4 linked regions of the Homo sapiens genome follow. The protein of the gene in region 4 purifies or fractionates together with the protein of the main gene of each other region. This does not show direct contact. Each region holds a gene or a part of one and is shown on either strand. Other genes may lie near its edges. The genes, in order: ADD2, SUGP1, MTCH2 and DUSP23.

Region 1 (7,807 bases), on a different chromosome or scaffold from region 4:
ACATCGGGTACAGGAAGGCCTCCCCCAGAGGGACTTACATGTTATCAGGGCTCAACATGAAGAGCTCTATCCACAGCTCTCCAGGTCTGGACCTAACATGAGGGTGGGAACTGGAGTCTGGGGCTCTCTTGTCTCTGGAACCACTCTGGTTATTTCCTGGTGTGGCTGGGGTTACACTGTCTGGCTGTCTCAATAGGTAATAAGACCATAAGTGCTTTCACTTGGCGTCCCATTTTGTCTACATGACAACCTTGGCCAGGTGGAGGATGTAGTAGTTTTCTGGGGCTCCCATAACAAAGCATCCCAGATGGTAATGGTAAACCACAGAAATGTGTGGTCTTACCATTCTAGAGGCTCAAAGTCTGAGATCAAAGTGTGGGCAGGTATGATTTCTTCTTGGAGTGTATGTAGATGGCCACCTTCTTGCTGTGTCCTCATATGGTCATCCCTTTATGCCAGTTTGTGTCCAAATTTCTTATAAGGACCTCAGTCATACTGGATTAAGGCCCACATATATGACATCATTTTACCTTAATTACTTTTTTAAAGGATTTAGCTCCAAATACAGTCACATTGTGGAGCACTGGGGGCTAGGACTTCAACACATAAATTTGAGGGGGATGAGATTCAGCCCATAACAGAGAGCAAGTGCTGTCACCCTCACTTTATAGCTGGGTAAGGGAGAATAAGGGGTCAGGGTCTTTCCTAAGTCCACACATTCCCTGGGACTGAGATTGGAGCCCTAGGCCCTGGACTCCCAATTCACTTCTGTTTCCAGAGCAGCATCAGCCATAGAGGTGAACTTTCATTTATTGGGTATCTTCAGAACATCTAGACTTACAACTTATCAGTGGTCTTCCTTTGAAAGCACTGTCTTCCTTCCCTTGCCCCATCTTAAAGTGGGTTCCCCTAAATGTAGATTACGATTTGAGTGTAAGTTGGGAAGCAAGCCCGGGAGGCACCTGTAAGGGAGTGGGAAAGTGATATAGGGAAGAAAAGCCCATAAAAGATGCGTGAGTGAGCAGGTAGGTTACTGCTGTGGGCAGCTGGGGCTCAATCCTGCTGAGGCTCTCTGGGAGACAATGGAGAACACTGAGGTATTCTCCCAACTCTCAGGGATGAGGGAGCCAGGCTGTTTATCCACAAACTCCTAATGGTCATTGGTTGAGGGCTGATCCCAGGGGTGTTGATTTCTCCAGCATTTCCAGCATGCCCTAGAAAAGGCCATTGATAAGCATGCCTGGGCCTATAGAGTGCTAAGCCCCCGTATTAGTTATCTATTGCTGTGTAACAAATTAATGCAAACTAAGCAACTTAAAACAACACATTTATTATCTCATGGTTTCTGTGGCCAGGAGTTGAGTCTCGGTATGACTTAACTGAGTCCTCTGCTTCAGTGTCTCTCACAAGGCAGAAATCAAGGTGTCAGCCAGGGCTGGGTTCTCAGTGGAAGGCTTAACTGGGGGAGGATCAGCCTCTAAACTTATGTGATGGTTAGTGGGATTCATTTCCTCTAGGACTTTTTTGGACTGAAGTTCTCAGTTTCCAGCTGGCTATTAGCTGGATGTCACCCTCAGTTCCTTGCCATGTAGATCTTCCAAACATGGCTACTAATGAAAGCATGCAGGTCAAGACGCCAACTGAGACAGTCTGCTAGCAAGACAAAGAATCTTATGTAATGTAATCACGGAAGTGAACATCCCATTATCTTTGCCTTATCCTGTCGGTTAGAAGTGAGCCACAGTCGTGCCAGCACCTAAGGAGAGGGTAATACACAGGGCAATGGATACCAGGAGATGGGGCTCACTGTTGCACTGCCAGCTTCTCTCTCTACTAGTTATTCTTGGCCAGAAACATTTTTGTCAGAAGACTTGGAAGATGAGAAATTTTACTGCAAATCAGTCAGAGAGTCTAATTTTAAACTATCTGGCCATGGAGGGTTAGCCAGCTGTGATTTTTCCCCGGTCTGACATGGGGGTCTCTTGTGTTTTTCTGGCCCCAGTTAAGGGCCAGGCATCTTGGGCTTGTTGCAGTGGGAGCTCTGAAGTCTCCTGGTCTCCCATTGACAGTTGGAGCCAACTACAGTTGTGGTTCCTTTTCCTGGATTTTGAAGTGAATTTGAAATTGAGAATTTCTGGAACTTCAATTAAAATTTCATATAGGCTATGAATATGGGAATTAATGAAGTCTTATTTCCTCTCTGACATTTGGACAATTCCTAAAGTCCCAGGATGGCACCACCTTCTCAGTATGCAGTATCAGATAGACCCTGGGAGAGGCCGGACATATATATATAAAAATATATGTAATATATATAATATATATTGTGTATATGTAATATATATAATATATACATATATAAACATAAATATATATATGTATCTCCTGTGATGACTAGGGGAGCAGAATCATTTTTTTTTTTGCCGGGGGGAAGGAGAATGTATTAGTCTTATCAGCCTTTCAGTGTCTTGTACCAGCTCTGCTTTAAAAAGTTTATTTTTGGCCAGGCGTGGTGGCTCACGCCTGTAATCCCAGCACTTTGGGAGGCTGAGACGGGCAGATCACCTGAGGTCAGGAGTTCCAGACCAGCCTGGCCAACATGGTGAAAACCCATATCTACTAAAAATACAAAAATTAGCTGGGTGTGGTGGTGCGTGCCTGTAATCCCGGCTACTCGGGAGGCTGAGGCAGGAGAATCGCTTAAACCTGGGGAGAGGAAGTTGCAGTGAGCTGAGATCATGCCACTGCACTCCAGCCTGGGGGGCAGCATGAGACTCTGTCTCAAAAGAAAAAAAAAAAGTTTATTGTCCCCTCTGGGAGGCCATGCAGTGTAGTGGTTAGGGCCCACAAACTCTGGAGCCACAGCACTTGAGTTTGATTCATTGCTCAGCCACCCACTAGCTGTGTGACCTAGGGCAAGCGACTTAACATCCCTGTGCCTCAGTCTCTTCATCTATAAAATGGGGATGATAATAGTACCACCCTCACAGAGTTTTTGCAAGGATTATGTGAAAATGCATGTAAAGCTCTCAGAACAGTGCCAGGAACCAACAAGGGTTTGCTAGGATTCATGTGAGAAAACAAAATAACACACTAGGAAGAGAAATTTTGGGGGATGGAAATGACTGGGGTGACTTATGAAACCTGCTATTTCTAACAAAAATTCTCCATTCTTTTTGGGGGTTCTATTAAGATATAGAGCCCACCTTACCTGTGACTTCTGAGCTCTGGAGAAGGGGTTCCCTGTTTCTCAGATCTCATCACCCATTAGCACCAAAAGAGCTATGGCTGCCAGGAATGACTCAATAAACATAACACGTCCTGGCTTCTTTGACCAGACAGACCTAGGTCCTGGGGTGGGGAGGGGAAGGGGTTTCATCTTGTGTGGCTGAGCCTGTTGTAATTCTTCTAGCAGGTTTTGACAGGAGAATGGGGAGAAGTCTTGTGGACTCGGTGATTCTGAATGAGAATGAGTGAGAAGCTCTGAGTGTGGAAGGAGGGTGCAGGGACCAGGTATGCATGTATGTTTCTTGGAAGGGGGGCTGAAGCAGAAAGACAAGTTTATCCTGGCATCTAGGGTTGTCGTTAGCATTTTCTTTTCTAAATCAGTAGTAGCTCTCAGAGTGGTGTTTCTAAAGTGTTAGTGTGCAAAGGAATCACTAGGGCTGCTTGTTAAAATTACCAATCCTGAGCCTACCTCCAGAGATTCTGGTTCCACAGCAGCACTGTGGTGGGGGCCAGTGACTTTTGTGGGGGTGTCTGAGGGCTGTGGTGCCCCAGAACCTGGAAGGGCAGAGGGGCCATGATCAGGTTTCAGATCAGTGGCCAGAGGCTTTTCTGGAAGCTGTACATTTTCACAAGCACATTTTCAAAAGCCCTTGGAGAGGATGTTGATTGAGGGGAGTTTTGGGGACTGGTGGAGATTATGGGGGTGAAAAGTCCAGAGCTATCTCTTAACACCCCTACTCTCTGAGGGCCAGGCCTTGAAAGTATTGGAAATGGGAGGTGCCTTAGGTACACTGTCATTTTACAGAGGAAGACAACGAGGCCCAGAGAGGTTAAGTGGGTTGATTAAGGTCTCACAGCTAGTTAAGAGCAGCTCTGAGACGGCAACCGAAGTATTCTGGTTCCCTATCCAGTTCCCCACTCACTACACACCTGTTCCTTCTGGGGCGGGAGACCTGAGGAAGGAAAGGAGTGAGAGGAGAATGTAGTGAGAGTTGGAGAGCGTTGGGTCCACAGCCCCCAAGGGCAGGGCCACAACAAAAATGTTGTCCTGGTTGAAAAGGAGTGAGAATCAGGACAGGGAGAATTTTGGTTTGGAATTCAGTCAAACAATTGCTATTAAAATCACTAATAGAATTATCTTCCGAAGGCTAGCTGTCCTTTCCAGACGAAAAGAAATATTCCAAGTCTAAGACTTTTGCTTTCTTCCTTCCAGGGAGAATACATTCCCCCAAGGGAGCTCTGTTTCAGATTTTCTCCCTAGTAACAGACTCCCCTGCTTAGCTCTGGCCATCCCGGGTAGTGAGTGGTGCGGGGCGGGGGTGGAAGGGGGCTGGAAGCCTGGCTAGGGGGGTCTGCGGCGGCGCGGGCGGGGGCGCTGCGGGGAGGAGGGGGGCGCTGCGGGGCGGTAGTGGGGGTGCTGCGGGGCGAGGCCGCTGCGGGGCGGTGGGGGGCGCTGCGGGCGGGGGCACTGCAGCACCGCGGCCCTCGGGCGGCCGGCGCGGCCTGCTGGAGGGGGCGCTGTGGGCACCGCGCAGCGGCCTTTTGTCAGCGCGCAGGGCCAGGAGAGCTCTCATTTCCTCCCAGCCTCGTGCGGGAAATGGCTTTAATTCTGACGGCAGGGCTGTGAGGGACTAGCGGGAACCCGAGCCTTTTGTCAAGGAACTGCGGCGTCGGTGGCCAGTCATCCCCGCCGCCGCGGAGCCGCTGCACTGCTGGGGGATCTCCCAGCAGCTCTGACGAGCGCGGGCTGCAGCATGGGCAGAAAACGCTGCCCTGCAGATTAGCTGGGTGGATTTTTTAAGCGCACCCCACCCCCCAAACCCATAAAATAACAAAACCAACCCGCAGTGGCCGACCGGAGATAGCTAAGATGCCGCGCAGGAGGTAAGGGTCTGGGGAGCGGGCCTGGTGGGCTGCCTGGGGTCGCTGGTCTCCTGGCGCGGAGACCCTGGCATCCCTCGGCCGGGCGGGAGCCGCTTGGCCCAGGTGGGGCGCGTCTGTTGCCGAGCGCGTCGGTGCTGCAGCCCTGGCCGGCAGCGGTGTGTTTTGCGCCTAAAGGTTTCTGGTGATGATGTAGCATCCGAGGCTCTTAGGAAATCGGGGCTGCAAGCACTGGCCCCTGCTTGGGGATGGTGGGACCCTCGCCCGGAGCGTAACGCCTGACAGGTGGGGCTTTCTTTTGGGTCCGAATGGAGGGGCGGCAAGCCTCGCCTCGCCTAGCCGGGCGGGGCCGCTCCTCCCCTCCCCTCCCTCCCCTCCCCTCTCTTTCCTTCCCGCTCGGCCGCCGCCCTCCGGGGTAGCGGTGCGAGGCGGGCTTGGCGGGGCTGGGCGCGTCCCCCGGGGCCTCGCGATCGCTGGCTGCGCGGCGCTCAGCCGCAGTGGCCGGCCGAGCAGGTGCGGCGTCGGCAGCCGCCTACATTGAGATCGGGGCAACCGGCACGTGAGCGGGCCTCGTGGGTTTTGATTTTATGCGGCTCCACCACTTTGGAGGGAAAAATCCCACTGTACCCGAGGGGGTCTTGCCAGTCTGTTTCTTCCATCTTCCCTCTCCTCTCCCTGCCTCCCCTCCCTTTCTGCAGCCGGGGCGGAGGCCATCCCCGGTCCCGGAGGCGGGAGTCGGTGTCTGCTTATTTTTAAATCACACCACAGCCTACCTGGTGTTGGGGGGAAGGGAGGGAGGGGCAGACTGCTTTAGGATGCAGATCAGGCTCTCGGGTCTGGCCTATTGTCTTGCCTTTTCTCTTCCTTCCTTTTCTCACCCCTAATCTCCATCTCTTGCCCAAAACTAAAAATAGAAAATAGGAAATAGAAATAGAAAATAAAAAAGCAAGCTCCAGCCCACACCCTATCAAATTCTTTAAAAAACTGTCATTTATCTCTGACACATGATTAATACCCATCTGTTTCCTTACACCCACTCTTCCCTCTTGCTGTTTGTCGTCTAAGATTCAACTGACTCAGATGAGCTTTATCGATAATAGAAATCAAATCTCAGTTTCCTAAATGCACATTTCGTGCTTCCCGAGTAACCCAAAAGGAGTGGTTGGTCTGGCATCCTGGCAGAAGCAAAGGGATTGGAGAGGGTGCAAGCAACTGCTTTCATGTCTAGTTTGTGGATCTAGCTGGGATTCCTGAGATGTTTAACTTGTGCAGTGAGGGGTGTTCTCATTAATGGCATTAGAAAATTATGTTCCGTTTTAAGAGAAAAATAGCAAGTCAGCATTTGAAGTAAAAGTGTTTTAAATGAATCTGACCAAAGAAGAGAACTATGACGTTTCAGACTTGCAAATAATATCTCCATTAGCATATGAATAATATATGTTAGAGACTTAAAAGGGGGGTTTAGACCATTTAATATTTTTACTTTATAAGGTTCTACTTTAATTGTGTAATGTGATCAAACTTTTCTCTGTAGAGACTTTTCTCCTATAGATCAGGATCTTGCCCAGCCTTTCTTCCCTACTCCTCCCTGCATAGGGCACAAGTAAAAGCAAAGTTTTCATTATTGGTATGATGTCAACACATTTTGAAAAACCACTAAAGATAAATTATTCTTTGATCCAAAATCCATAAGAATTTTGTAGTAAGCCCTATGTTCTTTCTTGTCCACCAAATTGCCTAGCCTTATTAGAAATATGCTTGTCATATACACAATGTACAACAATGCCTGACATGATATGCTGTGGTTTCTAGGCTTGGATTGAATTTGTTTTAAATATTAGTATAGTGTTGGAATTAGCAAATCTCAGCTATTCTTAAGGTTAACAGTTGAGCAAATGTGTTTGCTGGCAGTGGGTTTAGTGTTAAGATTTTAAATATATATAAAAAAGACTAGTAGATATATTTATTTATTACCACCTCTTCCACAAGGGATTTAAGATAGTTTACAGGGATTCATAAATATGGCAAGGCAGCCTAACTTGGAAGTAGTTGGGAAAGAAAAAAGGACACTAAGGGTGGAGTCATAAAATGGTCTTAAGCGTGAGGCTGATACAAAAACATGAGCATGAGACCTTCTACAATGGCTACGGGCAGGAAACAAAAACAGCTCTAAACTTTCTTGCAGCATAAGCAAAAAAGAAATTGACGAACCCATGGCTTATATGTTTTATTTATTTGTTAAACTCATTCACACACTTCTTCACTCAACAAACATTCAGTGAGGACTTACTACGTGCCAGGTTCTGTAAGACGTACTGGGAACAAAGGGATAAAGCAGATAGACGTGGTCTGTGTCTAATGGGCGCTTAAAGACAAATGCAAGAAATGGACACTCATCAAGAAATCTCTCAAATGAATATATAATTACAAATTGTGATAACAGCTATGTGGGAAAAACACAAAACACAAAACATTATATGGCCAGAACATAAAAACACAACAATTCTTTTTTATTTTTTATGTTTTATATTTTTTTGAGACACAATCTCATTCTGTTGCCCAGGCTGGAGCGCAGTGGCATGATCTCGGCTCACTGCAACCTCCACCTCCTGGCTTCAAGTGATTCTCACGCCTCAGCCTCCCGAATAGCTGGGACTACAGGTGCGTGTCACCACGCCCGGCTAATTTTTGCATTTTT
Region 2 (7,225 bases), on a different chromosome or scaffold from region 4:
GGAGAAGCACTAAGATGAAGAATGCAAGATCCATTGGGTCTTTTTTTGAGACAGGGTCTGGCTCTGTTTCTCAGGCTGGAGTGCAGTGGTGTGATCTCAGCTCACTGCAGCCTCCGCCTCCCCGGCTCAAGCAATCCTCCCACCTCAGCCTCCCAAATAGCTTGGATTACAGGCATGCACCACCTCACTTGGCTAATTTTTAAATTTTTTCATAGAGATGAGGTCTTGCTATAGTGCCCAGGCTGGTCTCAAACATTCTTTCCACCTTGGCCTCCCAAAGTGCTGGGATTTACAGGCATGAGGCACCGTGCCCCAGTGGCTTTTTTTTTTTTTTTTTTTTGAGGCGAACTGTTACTCTGTCAGCCAAGATGGAATGCAGTGGCACCACCTCGGCTCATTGCAACCTCCACCTCCCAGGTTCAAGCGATTCTCCTGCCTCAGCCTCCTGAGTAGCTGGGATTACAGGCGTGAGCCACCACACCTGGCTAATTTTTATATTTTTAGTACAGTTAGGATTTCGCCATGTTGTCCAGGCTGGTCTCGAACTCCCGTCCTCAAGGGAACCTCCAATTTACGCCTCTCAAAGCGCTGGAATTACAGGCGTGAGCCACCGAACCCAGCCTTCTTTTTTTTTTTTTTTTTTTTTGAGATGAAGTATTGCTCTTTTCCCCCAGGCTGGAGTGCAATGGCGCGATCTTGGCTCACTGCAATCTCCACCTCCAGAGTTCCAGCGATTCTCCTGCCTCAGCCTCCCGAGTATCTGGGACTACAGGCATCTGCCGCCATGCCTGGCTAATTTTTTCATATTTTTAGTAGAGATGGGGCTTCACCATGTTGGCCAGGCTGGTCTCGAATTCCTGACCTCAAGTGATCCACCCACCTCAGCCTCCCAAAGTGCTGGGATTACAGGCGTGAGCCACCACACCCAGCCGTTTTTTTTGTTTTGTTTTGTTTTTTTGAGACAGGGTCTCGCTGAGTTGCCCAGGCAGGAGTGCAGTTGCATGATCGTAGCTCACTGCATCCTCAAACTCCTGGGCTCTAGAGATTCTCCCACCTCAGCCACCCGAGTGGCTAGGACTACAGGCACACTCTACCAGGCCTAGCTATTTTCTTTTATTTTTTGTAGAGACAGGTTCTTGCTATGTTCCCCAGGCTAATCTTGAACTCCTGTCCTCAAGGGAGCCTCCCATTTAAGCCTCCCAAAATGCTGAGATTTTAGGCATGGATCACCACACCTAGCCAATATCCACAGGGTCGTTTTATTTTCATCCTGGCTACTAGGTAATCATTCTGGCCAGAGAATCCACAGGCAACAAGACCAGGGAGGCTCACTGGCTCCAAGCAACAGACAATGATGTCTTCAGACTAGGGTGATAGTATGGAGACAGGGAAGACACCTCAGAGGTTCCCCATGGGACTCAGAATAAAATCCAAATTTTAAAAGTCTGAGCCGGGCATGGTGACTCACACCTGTAATCCCAGCACCTGGGAGGCTGAAGCAGGCAGATCACTTGAGGTCAGGAGATCGAGACCAGCCTGGCCAACATGGTGATACCCCGTCTCTACTAAAAATACACAAAAACACTGGCCAGGTGCGGTGGCCGGCGCCTGTAATCCCAGCTACTCAGGAGGCTGAGGCAGAAGAATGGCTTGAACCCGGGAGGTAGAGGTTGCAGTCAGCCGACATCGTGCCACTGCACTCCAGCCTGGGCGACAGAGCGAAACTCCGCTTCAACAAAAAGAAAAAAAGAATTCTAAAAGGCCATTTTCAAGGCCCCGCCAGATGGTTCCCCTCCCTTCTGCTTCATCCTTGACATTCTTCAAAAGGACAAGCCCATCCTACCAGGGCCTCTGCATTTACTGGCCCCCCTCTGTGTGGAAGGCTCCACCCTCCAGGGATTCCCATAGCTGGCATTCATTGTCTTAACTCAAATGTCCTCTGCTTGAAAAGGCCTTTCCCTGGGCCAGGTGTGGTGGCTCACACCTTTACGTAACCCCAGCACTTTAAGAGGCTGAGATGGGAGGATCGCTTGAGCCTAGGAATTCCAGACCTGCATGGGAAACGTGGCAACACAAAAAACACACAAATTCGCTGTGTGGTGGCGCGCATCTGTGGTCTCAGCTACTAGGGAGGCTGAGGTGGGAGGATCACCTGAACCCAGGGAGCCACAGTGAGCCACTGCACTACAGCCTGGGCGACAAAGTGAGACCCTGTCTCAAAAAAAAAAAAAAAAAAAAAAAGAAAGAAAGAAAGAAAAGGTCTTTCCTGACTACCCAATATCAGAAGCCTCCACTCTGATCATATCATACGTAACCTCACATCATACGTAAGTTTTTGTAAATATTTTCTCATTAATGCACTGACACCCCAGTAGAAAGCAACCTCCAGGAAGGCAGGGCCCTGTTTCGGTCACCGCTGCATGCGTAGCGCCCAGCACACTGCTTGGCACACAGTGAGCACGCCCTAAGTATCTGCTGATGGGTAAATGCATTCTATTCTGGGGAAGCAGAAAGGCCAAGGCTTGCAGCAAAGTGAGGGTCAAAAGACGCGGGAAAGTGTGTCAAGGGAGCCTCAAAGCACTTCGGAAAAGCAGCTTTTCCAGAAAGCGGGACACAGGCCAGAGGCCAGCTGCGACGAAAAGAGGGGTGCAGGGACAGCCCAAGGTTGTCGCCGTATTGGGGAACGGAGGTTGGAGCAGCCCTGAAGGCGGTTGTTTCGGAAACGGGACGCAGGGCCGAGCCGGGTGGCGGCCTCTACGGAGATCCGTGCGTCCTCAGCAAACCAAGCGGGGGCGGCCAGCAACCTGGGTCTGGGGTCTCGAGAAACCAAGAGGTGCAGAAGCCGACGCTGTGGGCTGCCCCGGGGCTGAAGCGAGGGATCCACGGGTCGCAGCAGGACGGACCCGAGGAGTCAGGGGAGACACCTAGCCCCAGGGACCCAGGCGGCCGCCTGAGAGGAGGCGGGGGCTGTTACCTGCAACATCCCGGTTGTCCATCTTGAGACTCATCCAATCCCACAATGCTCCGGCGCCCCTTAAGGGGCCCTGTTATAGTGTGCATCGCCTGATGGGAGATGTAGTCCGCCTCGGTCAGACTCGCCCTATTACTGCGTGAACGACTGGGTTTTTTTTTTTTTAACCTCCAGAAACGGAAGCCTCAGCCTATCAGCGATGCCTAAGTCCCAGTCACGATAACCAAACGGCGTCGCCCTTTTACACCTTCCCGGAGCGGCAGTCATCCCAAATACAAACTACATGTTCCAGGATGCTTTGGGCGGCAGATCTCGCGGAAGCCGCGAGGAGAGCCCGGCCCCGTCTCGCGCGCCTGCTTCCGCCTCCCTGTGGCGGCGGCTTGTTGTTGTGGAGGCCAAAATGGCGGCTCAGGCGGCGGCAGCGGCCCAGGCGGCGGCGGCCCAGGCTGCGCAGGCCGAGGCGGCCGACTCGTGGTACCTGGCGCTTCTGGGCTTCGCTGAGCACTTCCGCACTTCCAGCCCGCCCAAAATCCGCCTGTGCGTGCACTGCCTGCAGGCCGTGTTCCCCTTCAAGCCGCCGCAGCGCATCGAGGCCCGTACACACCTGCAGCTGGGCTCCGTTCTCTATCACCACACCAAGAACAGCGAGCAGGCGCGCAGCCACCTGGAGAAGGCGGTGAGCGCGGGCCGGGCCGCGAGGGAGGAGTCGCGGGCTCCTTGCAAGATCTGGGCTGACGGGTCGCGACCGCGGCGGGTGGGGGGCCGCTCCTCGGCGACCTGGGGGCGCGACCTCCGTCAAAGCCGCAGGACCCCCACCCGCCTCTGCCGGACCCCAAAGCCACCAGCCTCTCAAGGGACACGAAAGCCTCGCCCCCCACGCCTTATTTCCCGTTTCTGGTGACAGGGCTCCAGGAGCCCCGTCACCGTACTCTGAAAGTTGCCTGTTATTGGGAGCAACAGGATCCGCAAATCGTCTGGTTTTCAGGAGGATCCCACCTGTTGGTGGCGATGGGGACATCACAGGGTCCTGAAGCTATTAGCTCCTCCTGGTTCAGCTTCCGGAGCATCAGCCCCAAACGCTTCCACCTAAAGTGACTTGGGGTAGGGGTTGGCGAAGGCGAGACCCCTGGCATTCTCCCGGGAATCTGAAGTCTGGTCTCTCAGGAACCTGGAAGGGCATGATTCTCCTTGGACACAGAAGTTTGGTAATCGTGGTTTTTGGAGGGTCTTGTGCCCCCATCAATAATGCCTGGTGTCGTACGAGGGAAGCTGAGACCCGGAGTCTGGAGTTGGTCATTTGAGGCCTATGAGGAGGAGAAACAGGGGTTCTGGATTCCAGGCCCCGCTGTTCAGTTTCAGTATTAGGGGAACTAAAAGCAGCTCCTGCTTTTTCTCCATCCACTGGTGACTTCTACCATCCATCAGTCCATCCTCTTCCGTCAGAGTGAGTCCCTCCCCTGACCCAACTTGATTTGTGTCATCTTGGTGCCTCAAAGAATGCGGGAGAGTGGCTGTCATTCTGCCCTTTAGTAAACTTTCTTTTTTTTTTTTTTTTTGAGACGGAGTCTTGCTCTGTCACCCAGGCTGGAGTGCAGTGGTGCCATCTTGGCTCACTGCAAGTTCCGCCTCCCGGGTTCAGGCCATTCTCCTGCCTCAGCCTCCTGAGTAGCTGAGACTACAGGCGCCCGCCACCACGCCTGCCTAATTTTTTGTATTTTTTAGTAGAGATGGGGTTTCACCGTGTTAGCCAGGGTGGTCTCCATCTCCTGACCTCATGATCTGCCCACCTCGGCCTCCCACAGTGCTGGGATTACAGGCTTGAGCCACCGCGCCCGGCCCCTTTAATAAACTTTCTAGGGCCAGGCTCAGTGGCTTATGTCTGTAATCCCAGTATTTTGGGAGGCGGAGGCAGACAGATTACTAGACCCCAGGAGTTTGAGACCAGCCTGGGCAACACAGTGAGATCCCGTCTCTACAAAAAATACAAAAACTAGCTGGGCGTACTGACGCGGGCCTGTAGTCCCATCTACTCCAGAGGCTGAGGTGGGAGGATCAGCTAAGCCCCGGGAGGTCGTGGCTGCAGTGAGCAGTGATCACGCCACTTCACTCCAGCCTTGGTGACAGTGAAACCCTGTCTCAGAAAAAAAAGATAATAAGGAAAAAATAATAAAATTTCAGGCTGTGGAGTCGTTTTTTTCTCACAGCAGCGCTGTGATCCTGTCAGACCCCTGCCTCCCTTTTACCTTTTACCCAGCTCTGTCCTGCTTGAATAGAAAATTATTGAAAAGAATCAACTCAGATTTTAAAAACTCATTAATCTGAGGTAAATCCAAGCCCACCCTCAGCTAGTAACAACTTGCCTTGAGGAATAGATCAAATCTTTGTTTCACAGACTGAAAAGTTGGAAGGAGACTTTATTTTATTTTATTTTATTTATTTGTTTATTTTGAGACGGAGTTTCGCTCTTGTTGCCGGGGCTGTAGCGCAATGGCAGGATCTCAGCCCACTGCAACCTCCGTCTCCCGGGTTCAAGTGATTCTCCTGCCTCAGCCTCCCGAGTAGCTGGGACTACAGGTGTGCGCCACCACACCCAGCTAATTTTTGTATTTTTAGTAGAGACGGGTTCACAGTATTGGCCAGGCTGGTCTTGAACTCCTGACCTTGTGATCCACTCCCCTCGGCCTCCCAAAGTGCTGAGATTACAGGCATGAGCCACTGCGCCCAGCCCCAGATAATTTTTTTTCTTTTTTTTTTGAGACAGATTCTCGCTTTGTCACCAGGCTGGAGTGCAGTGGCGCGGTCTTGGCTCACTGCAACTTCCGTCTCGTGGGTTCAAGCAATTCTCTTGCCTCAGCCTCCCGAGTAGCTGGGATTACAGGCTTGCACCACATCATCTGGCTAATTTTTGTATTTTTAGTAGAGACAGAGTTTCACCATTTGGTCAGGCTGGTTTCGAACTCCTGACCTCAAGTGATCCGCCCATCTTGTCCTCCCAAAGTGCTAGGATTATAGGTGTGAGTCACCACATCTGGCCAGTTTTATTTATTTATTTATTTATTTATTTTGAGACAGGGTCTCGCTCCATCACCCCGGCTGGGGTGCACTGGCGTGATCTCAGCTCACTGCAGCCTTGACCTCCTGGGCTCAAGCAGTCCTCCCATCTCAGCCTCCTGAGTAGTTGGGACCACAGGTACGCACCACCACACCCAGCTAATTTTTGTGTTTTTTGTAAAGACAAGGGCTTGAACTCCTGAGCTCAAGCCATCCACCTGCCTCAGCCTCCCAAAGTGCTGGAACTACAGGCTTGAGCCATTGTGCCCAGCGTGGAAGGCAACTTTAGTCCTCACTTGATCAACTGCCTTGTTTCAAAAGGGAGGCATTATGGGCCCAGAGAGGTAAAGTGATTTGCCCAAGGCTGCACAACAAGTTATTGACAAAACTAGGCTCAAACTCCAGCTCAGTGATAACCAGGTTACATGCCAAGATGATACATCATTATTGTTTTGGTGAAGTTTTTTTTCCTTTGATTCATTCAACAGATACTTGTTCAGCTCATGCAGGATGCCAAGCCCTATTTTTGGTGCCGGGGGATCAGCAATGGCTAAAACAGTTTCTGCCCACGTAAGCCTAGGTTTTCATGAGGAAGACAAATGATAAGCATATAGTAAGAGGTTAGGCAGTGATGGAAGAACCTTGAGAACTGAACCAGGGAGAAGAGATGGAGTTGACTTGGAGCTATTTTTGGCAGAGGTAGTGAGAGAGTCTCTATTTGTGGGAGTGACATTTGAGCAGAGGCCTGAATGGGTGGGGCAGGGAGCCTGGAGAACCACTCGGGGGGTCAGGTTGATGGCAAGGAGTGCCTAAGCTGTCGGGGACTGGCAGATGGTATCAGGGTCTCTCCAGGGTCATGATGAGGCTGAGATCAAATGAGGCACCAGACTTTATTGACTGGGAGGGGTCTGGTGGCCCAGCATCTCCAGTGGATGTGCTGGTTCTAAAACTCTCCTTTCTCTCCATGAACAACTCCCACCACCTGCCTTCCCTTGTCTCCCAGGGCTGTTCAGCCTGTTTCTGGCAGTGGCTAATAGTCACTGTGTGTACTGTCGTATTTTGCCCACTCAGCCCTGTCTAGGAGAAGCAGTCATGCTGCAAATTGCTCGCTTTACCACTTGGCTTTTGGACCCATAATTTAAACCCTTCTCCTTGCGAAGTGCCTTTGCTCTGTCAAATGGAACTTTGAATCTTGAAGGGTCT
Region 3 (7,023 bases), on a different chromosome or scaffold from region 4:
GAGACCATCCTGGCTAACACGGTGAAACCGTCTCTACTAAAAAATACAAAGAAAAAAAATTAGCCGGGCATGATGGCGGGTGCCTGTAGTCCCAGCTACTTGGGAGGCTGAGGCAGGAGAATGGCGTGAACCCGGGAGGCGGAGCTTGCAGTGAACCGAGTTCGCGCCACTGCACTCCAGCGTGGGTGACAGAGCAAGACTGTCCTAAAAAAAAAAAAAAAATGCAAAAGCCAATGGTAGACCTGCTTACATTTGCAATCCCAGAACCTAAATGCAAAGATTATAATTTAATTTTCTTTATTACTTCCTTACAGAGCCCTAGAGTAGAAAGATAAACTAGGAAAAACACAGCAGCTCTAAGATACTGCACAGTTACTGGGTTGTAGTCACAAAACAAAATTGTTCTCTTCTCCCAAAAATGTGAGTAGAGACTAAATGGAGCCTGTCATTTATCTAGAATGATGTCAGACTCTCCAAAATCACTTACCAATAAGAGAGCAACTTAATAATCTCAATAAAGGCCTCATATTTTTTATTTCAGCTTAATGACTTTGTTGGTGACCTTTCCTGTTTCTTTATTTTTTTCTCTTACCTGTAAAATTGAGAAAACAACAGAAGCCTGCTTTGCAGAGAAATTTTGAGAAGTAACTATAATAGAACATTGAGATCCATGAGTGAAAAGTATGATAAAATGACAATGAATGAGATCTTTCACATCCCATTCAAACTCTTCTTGACTCCAGCCAGGGCAGGAGGGCTGTGTCATTCACTTTCTTATCCTATACCACGATATCCACCCACATTCCTTCTCACAGGCATTTGAGTGTCATTTGTTTAGATTTCAGAAGTGTGTGTTGATTGTTTCTAGACAACTCGAGAGATGATCGCTCGTTCTGCTGCTACCCTCATCACACATCCCTTCCATGGTATGTTTGCAGTTGACAACTGACCTTTCTTTTATAACCTGATCTCTCCTGACCACTTAGATAGGTTGACGTGGGAGTTGACTAAAATGCCTTGCCTGCATGTTTTTGTTTGCTTGCTTGTTTTGGCTTTTATCCAATTTATCCAGATAGCAAAATGTCTTTAGGTGGAAAATCTTTTTTTTTCCCAGGGCTATCAAAATCTATCTTAACATAGTTTTTTTTTGTTTGTTTGTTTTTTGTTTTTGAGACGGAGTTTCACTCTTGTTGCCCAGGCTGGAGTGCAATGGCACAATCTTGGCTCACTGCAACCTCAGCCTTCCGGGTTCAAGCAGTACTCCTGTCTCAGCCTCCTAAGGAGCTGGGATTACAGGTGCATGCCACCACGCCTGGATAATTTTTGTATTTTTAGTAGAGATGGGGCTTCATCATATTGGTCAGGCTAGTCTTGAACTCCTGACCTCAGGTGATCCGCCCACCTCGGCCTCTCAAAGTGCTGGGATTACAGGTGTGAGCCACCGCACCTGGCCTTAACATAGTTGTAAACATCTTTTCTCTATATTCCACAGTGATCACTCTGAGATCTATGGTACAGTTCATTGGCAGAGAATCCAAGTACTGGTAAGTATTTTTGTTTTCACATACTCAAGGAGATCTTTTGAAGCCAAAGTACTAGAATAATACTACTTTGTATTTTTATGATACCCTTACAATTTGTAGAACAAATTCGTATCTGATGTCATTTGATCTGCACAAAAAACAATAAAATGGGAGAAAATATACCCAGGCAGGTTTAGTAGCCTACGTAGGATTTCAGAGTAAGTTGCAGAGCCCCTGACTCCATATGACTATACCCCTAGGTAGTTAATATTTTCACTTCTATCTCCAAATTTAGCTATCTTTGCAGAGTGAGAGAGTGCTAGAAAAGTGTGAGGGAAGGAGGTCGTGGATTTGACCTTGTCCAATGTGATAATTGAAATTATTTTGTTTATAGCTCCAAAAGAATCTTAATATATTTTACCTTTTCTTCTTGTGTACGTAGTGGACTTTGTGATTCCATAATAACCATCTATCGGGAAGAGGGCATTCTAGGATTTTTCGCGTGAGTAAATGTTGATTAGTGTGTAATTTTTGCATGAGTGGGAAACGTTTTCTGAAAGTAAGAATAGTGAGTCTTTGTTTAATCCTTGGGGAAAACGTACTCCCTGGGCTTACCTCACGTTACATTCTATTTAGGCCCCTTATTTTTTTTTCTTTTTTCTCTGCAGAAAGGCATATTTAGGCCCCATATGACTAGAATTATCTTGTAAAGATCCCAAACCTTTACTTCTAGATACTTAAAACATTTGAGGCCGGGCGTGGTGGCTCACGCCTGTAATCCCAGCACTTTGAGAGGCCAAGGCGGTTGGATCACCTGAGGTCAGGAGTTCAAGACCAGCCTGGCCAACATGGTAAAACCCCACCTCTAGGTGTGGTGGTGTGTGCCTGTAATCCCAGCTACTCGGGAGGCTGAGGCAGGAGAATTGCATGAACCCGGGAGGTGGAAGTTGCAGTGAGCTGAGATTGCACCACTGTACTCCAGCCCGGGTGACAGAGTGAGACTCCGTCTCAAAAAAATAATAATAATTAATAAATAAATAAGGAATTTCTTTTTTTAACAAAGGACTTAATTCCAAGTTTCTACCCTTGTAGTAAACTCCCAATTCTATATAGATAATAAAATGAGAAAAATTAAATGTTGAAAAATGGGGAAATCATCTTAACTTGTATTTTCCTTACCGTAAAAGAGTAAGTTTTTGCAAGGCTTGAATTTACTTTGGAAGAACTTAGACTACTACCCTCATTCTTCTATGAGGAAAAATTTTGCATCATTACCGAAATGGTGTTTTTTGTTTTTTTTTTTTTAATTTTCAGAGTATCTCCCCATACGGATTTTGAATATCATAAATACCCTGTGAGATAGGCAGGACAGCTATAATTAGTATCACTTTAGAGATTAAAAAACATTGATGCTCTGAGAGTTTCATCTGCTGCCTGTCACATCGCTGCTGAGTGCTGGAGCTGGCATTTGAAGCTGGTCTTCAATCCGTGGGGAAATGCTCTTCCCACTATTCCATGCTGCCTCACCTAGGTCACCCAGACCCTAGAAATGTGGTTTTTGATGCCTCTCATCTGTATCTGTACTTGGGACCATTCTTGCTTTGTAATTTTTCTCGTCTTTTGCTCTGCCAAATATGAATATCAGATAGCTTAGCAAAATCATTTTTTTAAGCTAGTCAAAGCAAAACAATATTTAAGTCTCTTCTGCAAAGCACCTCGCAAATCTTTTGCCTCCCTGCTTACAGTTATGAATAGTAAGGTGAGCCACTGAGGGTATAGCCGACCTGCATTTTAAACATAGGAACAAAAGTCACTGGAGATCAGCTTCAAGTACAGCTGTGTTAACGAGAATGAACTAGGTATGCGGGCTGGATTCTGGTGTTTGATTCCTTTTTTACTTCCCTAGAATGTTTTGTGACCTCTAATTATTTGACAAACATTTGTACTGAAGAGCCTGTCATGTTACTGATCACATTTTTTGGTTCTTATTTTTATTGTTTCTTCATGTAGGGGTCTTGTTCCTCGCCTTCTAGGTGACATCCTTTCTTTGTGGCTGTGTAACTCACTGGCCTACCTCGTCAATACCTATGCACTGGACAGTGGGGTAGGTTGTGACCTTCGTGAGATGTGCTCACCTTGGCTTTAATCTGGCAGCTAGATTAGCTTTTAAAGTAAGATGGGCCGGGCGAGGTGGCTCACACCTGTAATCCCAGCACTTTGGGAGGCCAATGTGGGCGGATCACCTGAGATCAAGAGTTCGAGACCAGCCTGGCCAACATGGTGAAACCTCGTCTCTACTAAAAATACAGAAAAAATTAGCTGGGCGTGGTGGTGCGTGCCTATAGTCCCAGCTACTTGGGAGGCTGAGGCAGGGGAATTGCTTGAACCCAGGAGGCGGAGGTTGCAGTGAGCCAAGATCGCGCCACTGCATTCCAGCCTGGGTGACAGAAGGAGACTCCATTTCAAAAAATAAATAATAAATAAATAAACAAGATGACAGTTTGCTACATGCCAGACTGAACAATTATATAGCTAAAAATTATCAGTCAAATTTTCAAATGCTAATGAAATGAGCATACTGTTCACTGTAGAACGATACTGTTTACTGTAGAACGATACACGTTAAAAGTCCGTAAGATGTGACAGAGTATACCCAAGAGACTTAGCCCTGTGTTACTTCAGGGCTTTAAAGAGATCACTTCTTTACTGATACTTAACTTGAGAGAACCTGGGAAAGCAGGACATCTTTATGGTGTATCGGGGGCTTTTCATCTAATCTGGACTTAAGAGGGTGCCTGTATTGGGCTTTCTAGAAACCTCAGCCTTTTGAGAATCAGTCTTATCTAGAAGTTGTCTTTCTTATCTCAGCAGTTGTGGGGCCTCTTGTATGTCGGCAGCTCCATAGCATGATGATAAATTGAACACATCACAGGGTATATGACTAAATCCATGTTGTAAACCTCTTGAGTACAGAGAGGGATTTTCTTCAACGCATCTGGTAGAAAGCTAGCTGTGTAAAACAAAGGTAGTGAATTGTCCCTTAGATATACTATAAATGTGGTTTTCCAGGGACTGTATTTCTAGGATGTGTGAAAAGGTTATCAATCTCATTTTCTTTAGTATTTGAAATCCTTTTACATTCGTCCCTAAAGCATTTTAGTATAATATGAATTTGTCTGTTAATATTGAATCAGGTTGATCATTTTGACCACTGCCTTATTATTCTAATAATCAGTGTTTTATGGTTTTGTCCTCAAAATTAGTTTTAGACAGGTGTGGTGGCTCATGCTGTAATCCCAACACTTTGGGAGGCTGAAGTGGGAGGGTCACTTGAGCCCAGGAGGTCAAGGTTGTGAGATCACAGCTCACTGCACCTCCAGCCTGGGCAACAAGAGAGATGAGATCCTGTCTCAAAAAAAAAAAAAAAATTAATTTTCAAGCTGTCAAACTGATAATTTAGAGATAGACTATATTGACATGGAGAGCAAGGCACAGTAGCTCCAGCCTATGATTCCAGCGACTCAGGAGGCTTAGGTGGGAGGTTTGCCTGAAGCCAGGAGTTTGAAACCAGCCTAGGCAACATAGCAAGACACCGTCTCTTAGCTGGGCATAGTGGCTTATGCCTATAATCTCAGCACTTTGAGAGGTCAAGGTGGGAGGATCTCTTGAGCCCAGGAGTTTGAGACCAGCCTGGGCAAACATAGGGAGACCCTTATCTCAAAAAAAAAAAGACACCATTTCTTAAAAAATATTTTGAAATTAGCTGGGCGTGGTGATGTGTGCTTCAGGAGGTCACTGCACTTCAGCCTGGGTGACAGAGTGAGGCACTGTCTGAAAGAAAAAAAGAAAAGAAAAGAAAAGGAAAAAAGAATATATTGATGTGTTGTAGTGTTGTAGGTAATTAATTTAAGGCTCTTTTCCTATTTTAGGTTTCTACCATGAATGAAATGAAGAGTTATTCTCAAGCTGTCACAGGAGTGAGTTTTTTAAAATCCTTTTAACCTTCTAGGAATAGTTGTGTTTTGTTTTGTTTTCCTTTTAAATCTGGCTTGTGTCATCACTGCTTTAAGATAACCAGATGTCTCACTGGGACATCTCCCTGAAATTTGTTATATTTGTCAAAGGTAAGAATAACTCAGTTTTCGGCCAGGCGCCATGGCTCATGCCTGTAATCCTAGCACTTTGGGAAGGTGAGGTGGGCGGATCACCTGAGGTCAGGAGTTCGAGACCAGCCTGGCCAACATGATGAATCCCCGTCTCTACTAAAAATACTAACATTAGCCGAGCGTGGTGGTGCATGCCTGTAATCCCAGCTACTCGGGAGGCTGAGGCAGGAGAATCACTGGAACCTGGGAGATGGAGGCTGCAGTGAGCTGAGATCACGCCACTGCACTTCGGCCTGGGCGACAGAGTGAGACTCCATCTCAAAAAAAAAGAGAGAATAACTCAGTTTTCGAAGGAACCACAGACTCACATGTGAAAATAAAGAGAGTAAGGCAGAACCCCTGCCTCACATCCTGCATGGTTTGGTACTGCTTAGCTTTCATAAGGGGCGTGCCTTTCCTCCGAAATAATATTGTTCAGGCCAGACATGGTGGCTCACACCTGTAAACCCAGCACTTCGGGAGGCCAAGGAAGGAGGATCACTTGAGGCCAAGAGTTCAAGACCAGCCTGGGCAACTGAGCAAGACCCCATTTCTACAAAAGTGAAAAAAAAAAAAAAAAGCTGGGGCAGGCGCGGTGGCTCACTCCTGTAATCCCAGCACTTTGGGAGGCTGAGGTCGGGAGTTCGACACCACCTTGGCCAATTTGGAGAAATCTCATCTCTACTAAAACTACAAAATTAGCTGGGCATGGTGGTGCATGCCCGTAATCCCAGCTACTTGGGAGGCTGAGGCAGGAGAATCGCTTGAACCCCAGGAGGCGGAGGTTGCAGGAGAATCGCTTGAACCCAGGAGGCGGAGGTTGCAGTGAGCCAATATCACACCATTACACTCCAGCGTGGGCAACAAGAGGGAAACTCCATCTCAAAAAAAAAAAAAGTAGTTGGGTATGGTGGCGTGCGCCTATAGTCCCAGCTACTCAGGATCAGAGAATTCTTCTGGCCTTTTGTTAAAATGTTGGATGCAGTGGTGTGCTAAGAGGAAGAAGCATCTCCAGGCTCAAAACTGTAACTGTTGTCTTTCCAGGGTACCGATGAAGCGAGACAAGTGTTAGAGTGTCTCACCGCAGTGGCACTAGGCCTTTAAGGTAAAGGAAAGGAGAATAAAGACTAGGAATGATCTAATAACAGCTGCCTTGTTTCCATTTTACAGTTTTTTGCGAGTATGTTGACCTATCCCTTTGTGCTTGTCTCCAATCTTATGGCTGTCAACAACTGTGGGTAAGCACTTTGTATTTCTTATTCTAGTAGGTGGTTGACTGTATGCTGACAGGCGGAGCAGCCTTGTAGAAATTTAGGAAAGATGAATGATCAGTATCAATCTCTGATTGGTATTTT
Region 4 (6,631 bases):
TACTGCATAATAAATTACCCAAAATTTGATGGCTTAAAAGAATAAATATTTATTATCTCACAGTTTCTGTAGGTAAGGAATTCAGGAGAGGCTTAGCTGGGTTGTTCTGGCTCAGGGAATCCATGAGGCTATAATCAAGATGTTGGGTAAATCATCTAAAGTCTTCATGGGCTGGAGAATTCACTGCAACAGTAGTGAGCCACTGACTTGATGGTGGGTAGGAGGCTTCAGTTCCTCACCACATGGATCTCTCCACACAGCTGCTTGAGAGTTCTCACAACATGGCAGCTGGCTTCTTCCCAAAGCTTCCCATGGCAGGCCTTCTTTCCAAGACAGAACAAGGCAAAAATTAAGTATTTCATGATGCAGCCTAGGAAGTCACACACCACCAGTTACACAATATCTTACTGGTTGCAAAAATCAGCCCTATCAATGTGGAAAAGCACTACACAGGCATGAAATGGCTCATTGGGTACCATCTTGGAAGCTAGCTGCCATACCATTTCTTCTTAGGTTCAGTTTCCAGATTATCAGATCTTAGGTGTGAAGTGTGTTTAGACATTAAAAAATCAGAACACTGAGGACACTGAGAATTCTGACTGTAGTCCAAGGGCCACAGGAACCTGAACCCAAGCAATCCTTTGCATTGGTGGAACACAGGGACCTACCTGGAGGAAGAAATTCTCTGACTCCAATTGCACCCCTAATTGCCACTAGCATCAAGCCAAACAGGGGACTGGGGCCTCAATATGAACAAGAACTAAGTCAAAACATTCTTATCAGCTGGAAAAAGGGAAGCTGAGATGCCCTAAAAAATGTTCTGTTAAGCCTTATTTTTTACTTTTAAGTTCAGGGGTACATGTGAAGAATGTGCAGGTTTGTTACATACGTAAAAGTGTGCCATGGTGGTTTGCTGCACAGATCATCCCATCACCTAGGTTTTAAGCCCAGCATCCATTAGCTATTCTTCCTGATGTTCTCCCTCCCCAAGTCCCCACCCCAGACAGGCCCCAGCATTTGTTGTTCCCCATCCCCATGTGTCCATGTGTTCTCATCATTCAGCTCCCACTTGTAAGTAAGAATATGCAGTGTTTGGTTTTCTGTTCCTGTGTTAGTTTGCTGAGAATAATGGCTTCCAGTTCCATCCATGTCCCTGCAAGGGAATGATCTCATTGCTTTTTATGGCTGTATCATATTCCATGGTGTATATGTACCACATTTTCTTTATCACTGATGGACATTTAGGTTGATTCCATGTCTTTGCTATTGCGAATGTGCTGCAATAAGCATATGGTGCATGTATCTTTATAAAAGAATGACTTGTATTCCTTTGGGTATATACCCAGTAATGGGATTGCTGGGTCTGCTGAGCTTTTCATTGGACAGTAGACAAAATGGAAAGAAAAATCCCTCTCTTCATAAGACATTTCTGGTAGTTCCAATTCAAGCTTATCTTTCCCCCACTGACTTCTTTTGCACTTGTTTTTACTGCACAATTAGCTTTTTAATATGTATTATCTGATTGTCTTTGATGAGCAATTTAGTACTTTATTATATGTCCTGAGAATAATTACATCAGAGTCTAAATCCCCCGCAAGGATGTTGTAAATTCCTTGAAGTCAGGGAAATTTCTTAAGCTTACTACTCAGCCCACCATCAGTGTCAATAGATTGTTCTCCAGGAACACGGCCCCTCCAAAGCACTCAAATACACAAGCCATCACACACATGCACACTACAAGAGCAGTGCTCTATAAAGAACAAGCTTTATTTGTCCCATTTCACAAAAATAGTAATTAGACATAGCCAAGATCATACTGACACAGCCATTCTTTATTTAAAAGCACAGTCAAGTAAAAAATACACTTCAAAGAGATACTACCCAATACTCAACACAGTCCTCAAACTTGTGCATTTAAAAAGAATTACAAATACACATTGCCACATGGTCCGACAGACTCACATTCACTCCTAGAAATGTACCTTCACGGTCTTGCCAATGCATTCTTCTTATTAATTTCCCATTCATTTGTTTACTTAACATTTTGAGCCCTGTGGCTCAGGCTCCATATTAGATGTGTGGAATTCAAAAACGGAACAACGCATTCTTGCCTCCTCTGCAAACAAGTATCCTCAATCCAATGACATTACTATACTGAGAAGACATATTTATACAAGGTGAGATGGGAGAAAAAAAAAAAGCCTAAATCTTCCTGAGGGTCAGGTAACTCTGTACAGAGGAGAGAATAAAAGAAGGTCAGTATCATGTATGTGGGCAGACAAGAAGGTGGTTAGTTGCAGAAGTCCTGTTAATTGCAGAAGTCTGAGCCAGGAAACCATCAGAGAGGGTTTTTCCTTACAGTTTGAGGCCCCTTGGGCCCAAGACAAAACATCATATGGCACCCTTGACATATGGCACCCTTGACAAAGCTTAAGGCAGGGACCCTGGGCCCTTTCCACTCTGGGTCTGCTGGAAGGGAAGGGCAGAGCTTCCTAAAAAGGGAGCCAACTGGCCTCTCCACATGGAGGCCCTAATGGTTTGATGGATGCACTGCTAGCCCTGCAGAAACCCACAAGAGGGAGAGAATCATTGGTAGGGGACTCAGGGAAGAGGAAGATCTCGGTCTCCCAAAAAAATTTTCTCTTTCTGGAGAATATGGGCTTCGAGCTGGATATCAAGGAGGCAAAGAAGGAGCACATAGGAGGGTAGGGAGTGAAGTGGAAACTTCCCTGGTGAGTAGGGGAAGCAAAGAAAGGAGAACAAGGCAAAGGGACTAAGAAAAGATTAACTTACAAGAACAAATGCTAGAGTCTTGTCTCCAGAGGTAGTGCAACCAGAAATCCTGAAGAGCAGTTGAATTGAGAAGAGAAGTGGGAGGTCAGGGGGTTGGGGGAAGAGGTGACTGGTGGCTGAGAGGCCATGGCTGGGAAAGAGAGAAAGGAATAAACTGGGGAGGGCTGGTAACCTTGATAGGAATTTATGTAGGAAATGAGAGTGCAAACAGGAAGGGCTTAATGAGGGCTGTGATTGTCTGGAAGGAGAAAAAGGGGAGATTTGGCACCTCCTGGAACCTGGGGAAAGTAATTGTCTGGGTAAATGGTAAGTGTATTTCCCACAGGGTCAGAGCAGGCTTTGATCTTTAGGAGAAGACAAATTGCTTTCCATCTTGCTGAAGCCAAAGGCTTAAATGGTCAGACGTGTGTCATAGGTGGGTGCAAAGGGAAGGAAATATAATACATCCTCATGGCCAAGTGCCCTGGGCTTGGATCACTGTGTCCTTGGCCAAGTTAACCAACTTCTTTAAGCTTCCAATGATTCATGTACAAAAAAAGATACAAAAATACCTTTCACATGTGGTTCTTCCAGAAAGCGCTTGGCACAGGGCCTGGTACATAAACAAATTCAATAAGGGTTAACTATTTTCATAATTACAGTTAGTCTGCATCGCTAGAAGCACATTATTCAAATGAGGATATGGACTGGTCAGATGACAGTGGAAACGGTGTTCAGATCTAGGGGCCCCCACCTAGTAAGAACAACACTAATCAACTCTAGCCTGCCCAGGGGACAGTGACCCAGAGAACTAGGAAACCTTGAAAAATGAAGAAATATGAAATACTAATAAAAATTAAGAAAACCCACAAGCGTTTAACCCAGATAATATTTGGGGACATGAGGGGGTTATGTGAAGAGAAAACAATGTTCCATTTAACTTTAGGAAATGGCGATATTATTAAAGATTTTGGAGGCATTAGTCATCATCCTTTGGTCAAGTTTATTAACCTCTCCAGTGCCTCTGTTTTTTCATCCATAAAATGGGATTCACTAGATCACCTATCTTATAAGATTACTGTGGCAATTAAATGAGTCAGTATGTGCTAAGTGCTTAGAAGACTATCTAGCACATAATAAATGCTCAATAAGTCCTGAGGAGCAACTGGATTGACAGGAGAAGTTGGTGCTGGTTATTATTATTACTATAATTATTACCCTGGGTAAGTTTTTAATAGTTCCAGCAATGAAAAAATGAGAATAGCCTCCTTGCAGCAGTAATTCCCTCTTACTGGAACAGTTCAAAAAGTCGCTGATAACGACCAGTCAATCATTAGAGAGGAGACTCCTCGTCCTGGGAGAAAGCCGATTTGTCATCTCTTAAACCCCAGGGCATCCAGCGTGAAGGAGGTAGAACTAGGCCGGCCCGCGAGGAGGCAGGGGCAGGCGCCAGTGACGCAATGACTGCAACATGCCGCCAGGGTGCAGCAGAGCCCGACCCCGGGTTGTTCCATCCGCAGCAAACAATTCCTAACTCGCTCCAGGTCTTCCTTCTTAGCTGAGTGGGTTGAACCCCGTGGAAGTAACCCCCCGCCCATTATGATGATCCAGCCAATCACCGCGTGATCTGCTCGGACGGGGCGGGATCGCGGCGCTTCCCTCGGTCGCTCAGAGACTGGGTTCCGCGTTCCAGCCCCGCCCCAGGTTCTGGGCCAATCCCCGCGGCTGGGCAGAGCGACCCGAGGGCGGCGCCCTGCAGACCACGTGGCCCGGGAGGCGCCGAGGCCAGGTAGGTGGTGAGTTACTTGGCTCGGAGCGGGCGAGGGGACGCGTGGGCGGAGCGGGGCTGGCCAGCCTCGGCCCCCATGACCCGCTGTCCTGTGCCCTTTCCCAGCGATGGGCGTGCAGCCCCCCAACTTCTCCTGGGTGCTTCCGGGCCGGCTGGCGGGACTGGCGCTGCCGCGGCTCCCCGCCCACTACCAGTTCCTGTTGGACCTGGGCGTGCGGCACCTGGTGTCCCTGACGGAGCGCGGGCCCCCTCACAGCGACAGCTGCCCCGGCCTCACCCTGCACCGCCTGCGCATCCCCGACTTCTGCCCGCCGGCCCCCGACCAGATCGACCGCTTCGTGCAGATCGTGGACGAGGCCAACGCACGGGGAGAGGTCAGCGGGCGGGGTCAGCGCAGGGAGGGAGGGGCCTGGAAGGTCAGCGGGGGACACGGGCGGAGCTGGGGAGACCGGGCCTGGGATAACTTAACTGGGCTCGGGGAGGCAGACAGTAGGGCCGGGAGACTGGGAAGCCAGTGCGGGGGAGGGAAGCGCTAAACGGAAGGAACTAAAGAGAGGGCGAAGCAGTGCGAACTGGGCTTGAGGAGAGGCAGTGAAAACCAGCTAATACTGTGAGTTGTGAAGGAGAAGGGTGTGGACAGACACCTGGGAGAGGTGGGGGTTGAAGTCAGGTGGAGGCTGTTTACCATTTTCTAGAGTAAAGCTGTCCAAATATAATGGAACCTAAGTGGCTCCATGTAATGTTAATTTTTCTAGCAACGGCATTCTTAAAAAGCAGGGAAGCAGATAAAATTAACTTTGGTGATCTTAATGAGATATTTTCATTCTTTTTTCTACTACCTCTTCATACCCTGTTGCGTTTTTCACACTACATCTCAGTTTGGACTAGCCACATTTCGAGTACAGTAGCCACAGTAGCCGTGGCTACTGTCTTCTGTATTGAACACCACAGGTGGAGGGCTGTGTAGAGGTGGACAGCTCTTGAACCAGCCAGTGCAGAGGCCTCCTAGCCACCTAGTGCAGGGACAGCCCTCCCTGACTTTGCTGCAGAGCCCTGGACCTGGCACAGAAGAAGGAGCTGTGGGGAGAACCAAGTGAGGGGCAGGAAACAGTTGTGGGTGGGGGAGTTGAGTGGCACCCATCGAGCCCCCTCTTCGTAGGCTGTGGGAGTGCACTGTGCTCTGGGCTTTGGCCGCACTGGCACCATGCTGGCCTGTTACCTGGTGAAGGAGCGGGGCTTGGCTGCAGGAGATGCCATTGCTGAAATCCGACGACTACGACCCGGCTCCATCGAGACCTATGAGCAGGAGAAAGCAGTCTTCCAGTTCTACCAGCGAACGAAATAAGGGGCCTTAGTACCCTTCTACCAGGCCCTCACTCCCCTTCCCCATGTTGTCGATGGGGCCAGAGATGAAGGGAAGTGGACTAAAGTATTAAACCCTCTAGCTCCCATTGGCTGAAGACACTGAAGTAGCCCACCCCTGCAGGCAGGTCCTGATTGAAGGGGAGGCTTGTACTGCTTTGTTGAATAAATGAGTTTTACGAACCAGGGCACGTTGCATGGTACTTTATAAAGCATTCCCACACATTAACTTACTTCAGCCTCACTGTAGCCCTGTGATACAGGAAAGACAGATGGGCCATCTCTGTTCTTTGGATGAGGTGGGCAAAGCTCAGAGAGGCCCATCTTCAACACTTCTAGAAAGTGGAAGGATGGGCCAGAACAGCAACACACGTCTTCAATCCCTTGAAGATGCTGAAATGCTATGTATCTGTTCCCTGACAATATTTGATGTGTTTTCTGGGGGAGCTAGTCAATGAAAAGGATTCAGGTCCAGAATAGCCTGGCCTCCTGGCATTCCCAGGTCTCTGATGCTCACAGGCCAGGAGGCCCCTCCGTGTAGGCCCACCTGCTGCACACGTGTCACCCTTGTTTATCTGGGGGTAGAGACAGCCTGGATGTCACACTCACAGATAACCACCATCTCCACCTCCACAGGGCTGGTCACCTCTTACCAACCTCAGGTGCTGCTCAGCTCATCTGGGCTCTCTGGCTCATTCTGCTGCCCCA

Evidence for each region.
Region 1: the proteins of DUSP23 (region 4) and ADD2 purify together in Homo sapiens (affinity purification with mass spectrometry; 2 studies listed by BioGRID and IntAct, with this or other methods). This does not show direct contact.
Region 2: the proteins of DUSP23 (region 4) and SUGP1 purify together in Homo sapiens (affinity purification with mass spectrometry; 2 studies listed by BioGRID and IntAct, with this or other methods). This does not show direct contact.
Region 3: the proteins of DUSP23 (region 4) and MTCH2 purify together in Homo sapiens (affinity purification with mass spectrometry, with the first as the bait; 2 studies listed by BioGRID). This does not show direct contact.

The regions. Positions count from the first base shown.
Region 1 is NC_000002.12:70,765,191-70,772,997, reverse strand, and holds the start of ADD2 (beta-adducin), read left to right. Parts: upstream 1-4,797; 5' UTR 4,798-5,098; coding exon of another isoform or gene 5,099-5,112; intron 5,113-5,282; exon of another isoform or gene 5,283-5,394; intron 5,395-7,807. UniProt on the Homo sapiens protein: Membrane-cytoskeleton-associated protein that promotes the assembly of the spectrin-actin network. Binds to the erythrocyte membrane receptor SLC2A1/GLUT1 and may therefore provide a link between the spectrin cytoskeleton to the plasma membrane.
Region 2 is NC_000019.10:19,317,489-19,324,713, forward strand, and holds the start of SUGP1 (SURP and G-patch domain-containing protein 1), read right to left. Parts: upstream 3,022-7,225; 5' UTR 3,009-3,021; coding exon 2,975-3,008; intron 1-2,974. Other genes in the region: MAU2 chromatid cohesion factor homolog, read left to right, coding at 3,372-3,647.
Region 3 is NC_000011.10:47,625,557-47,632,579, reverse strand, and holds part of MTCH2 (mitochondrial carrier homolog 2), read left to right. Parts: intron 1-868; coding exon 869-926; intron 927-1,492; coding exon 1,493-1,544; intron 1,545-1,965; coding exon 1,966-2,025; intron 2,026-3,533; coding exon 3,534-3,627; intron 3,628-5,452; coding exon 5,453-5,500; intron 5,501-6,838; coding exon 6,839-6,906; intron 6,907-7,023. UniProt on the Homo sapiens protein: Protein insertase that mediates insertion of transmembrane proteins into the mitochondrial outer membrane. Catalyzes insertion of proteins with alpha-helical transmembrane regions, such as signal-anchored, tail-anchored and multi-pass membrane proteins.
Region 4 is NC_000001.11:159,776,433-159,783,063, forward strand, and holds DUSP23 (dual specificity protein phosphatase 23), read left to right. Parts: upstream 1-4,529; 5' UTR 4,530-4,668; coding exon 4,669-4,935; intron 4,936-5,720; coding exon 5,721-5,906; 3' UTR 5,907-6,111; downstream 6,112-6,631. UniProt on the Homo sapiens protein: Protein phosphatase that mediates dephosphorylation of proteins phosphorylated on Tyr and Ser/Thr residues. In vitro, it can dephosphorylate p44-ERK1 (MAPK3) but not p54 SAPK-beta (MAPK10) in vitro. Able to enhance activation of JNK and p38 (MAPK14).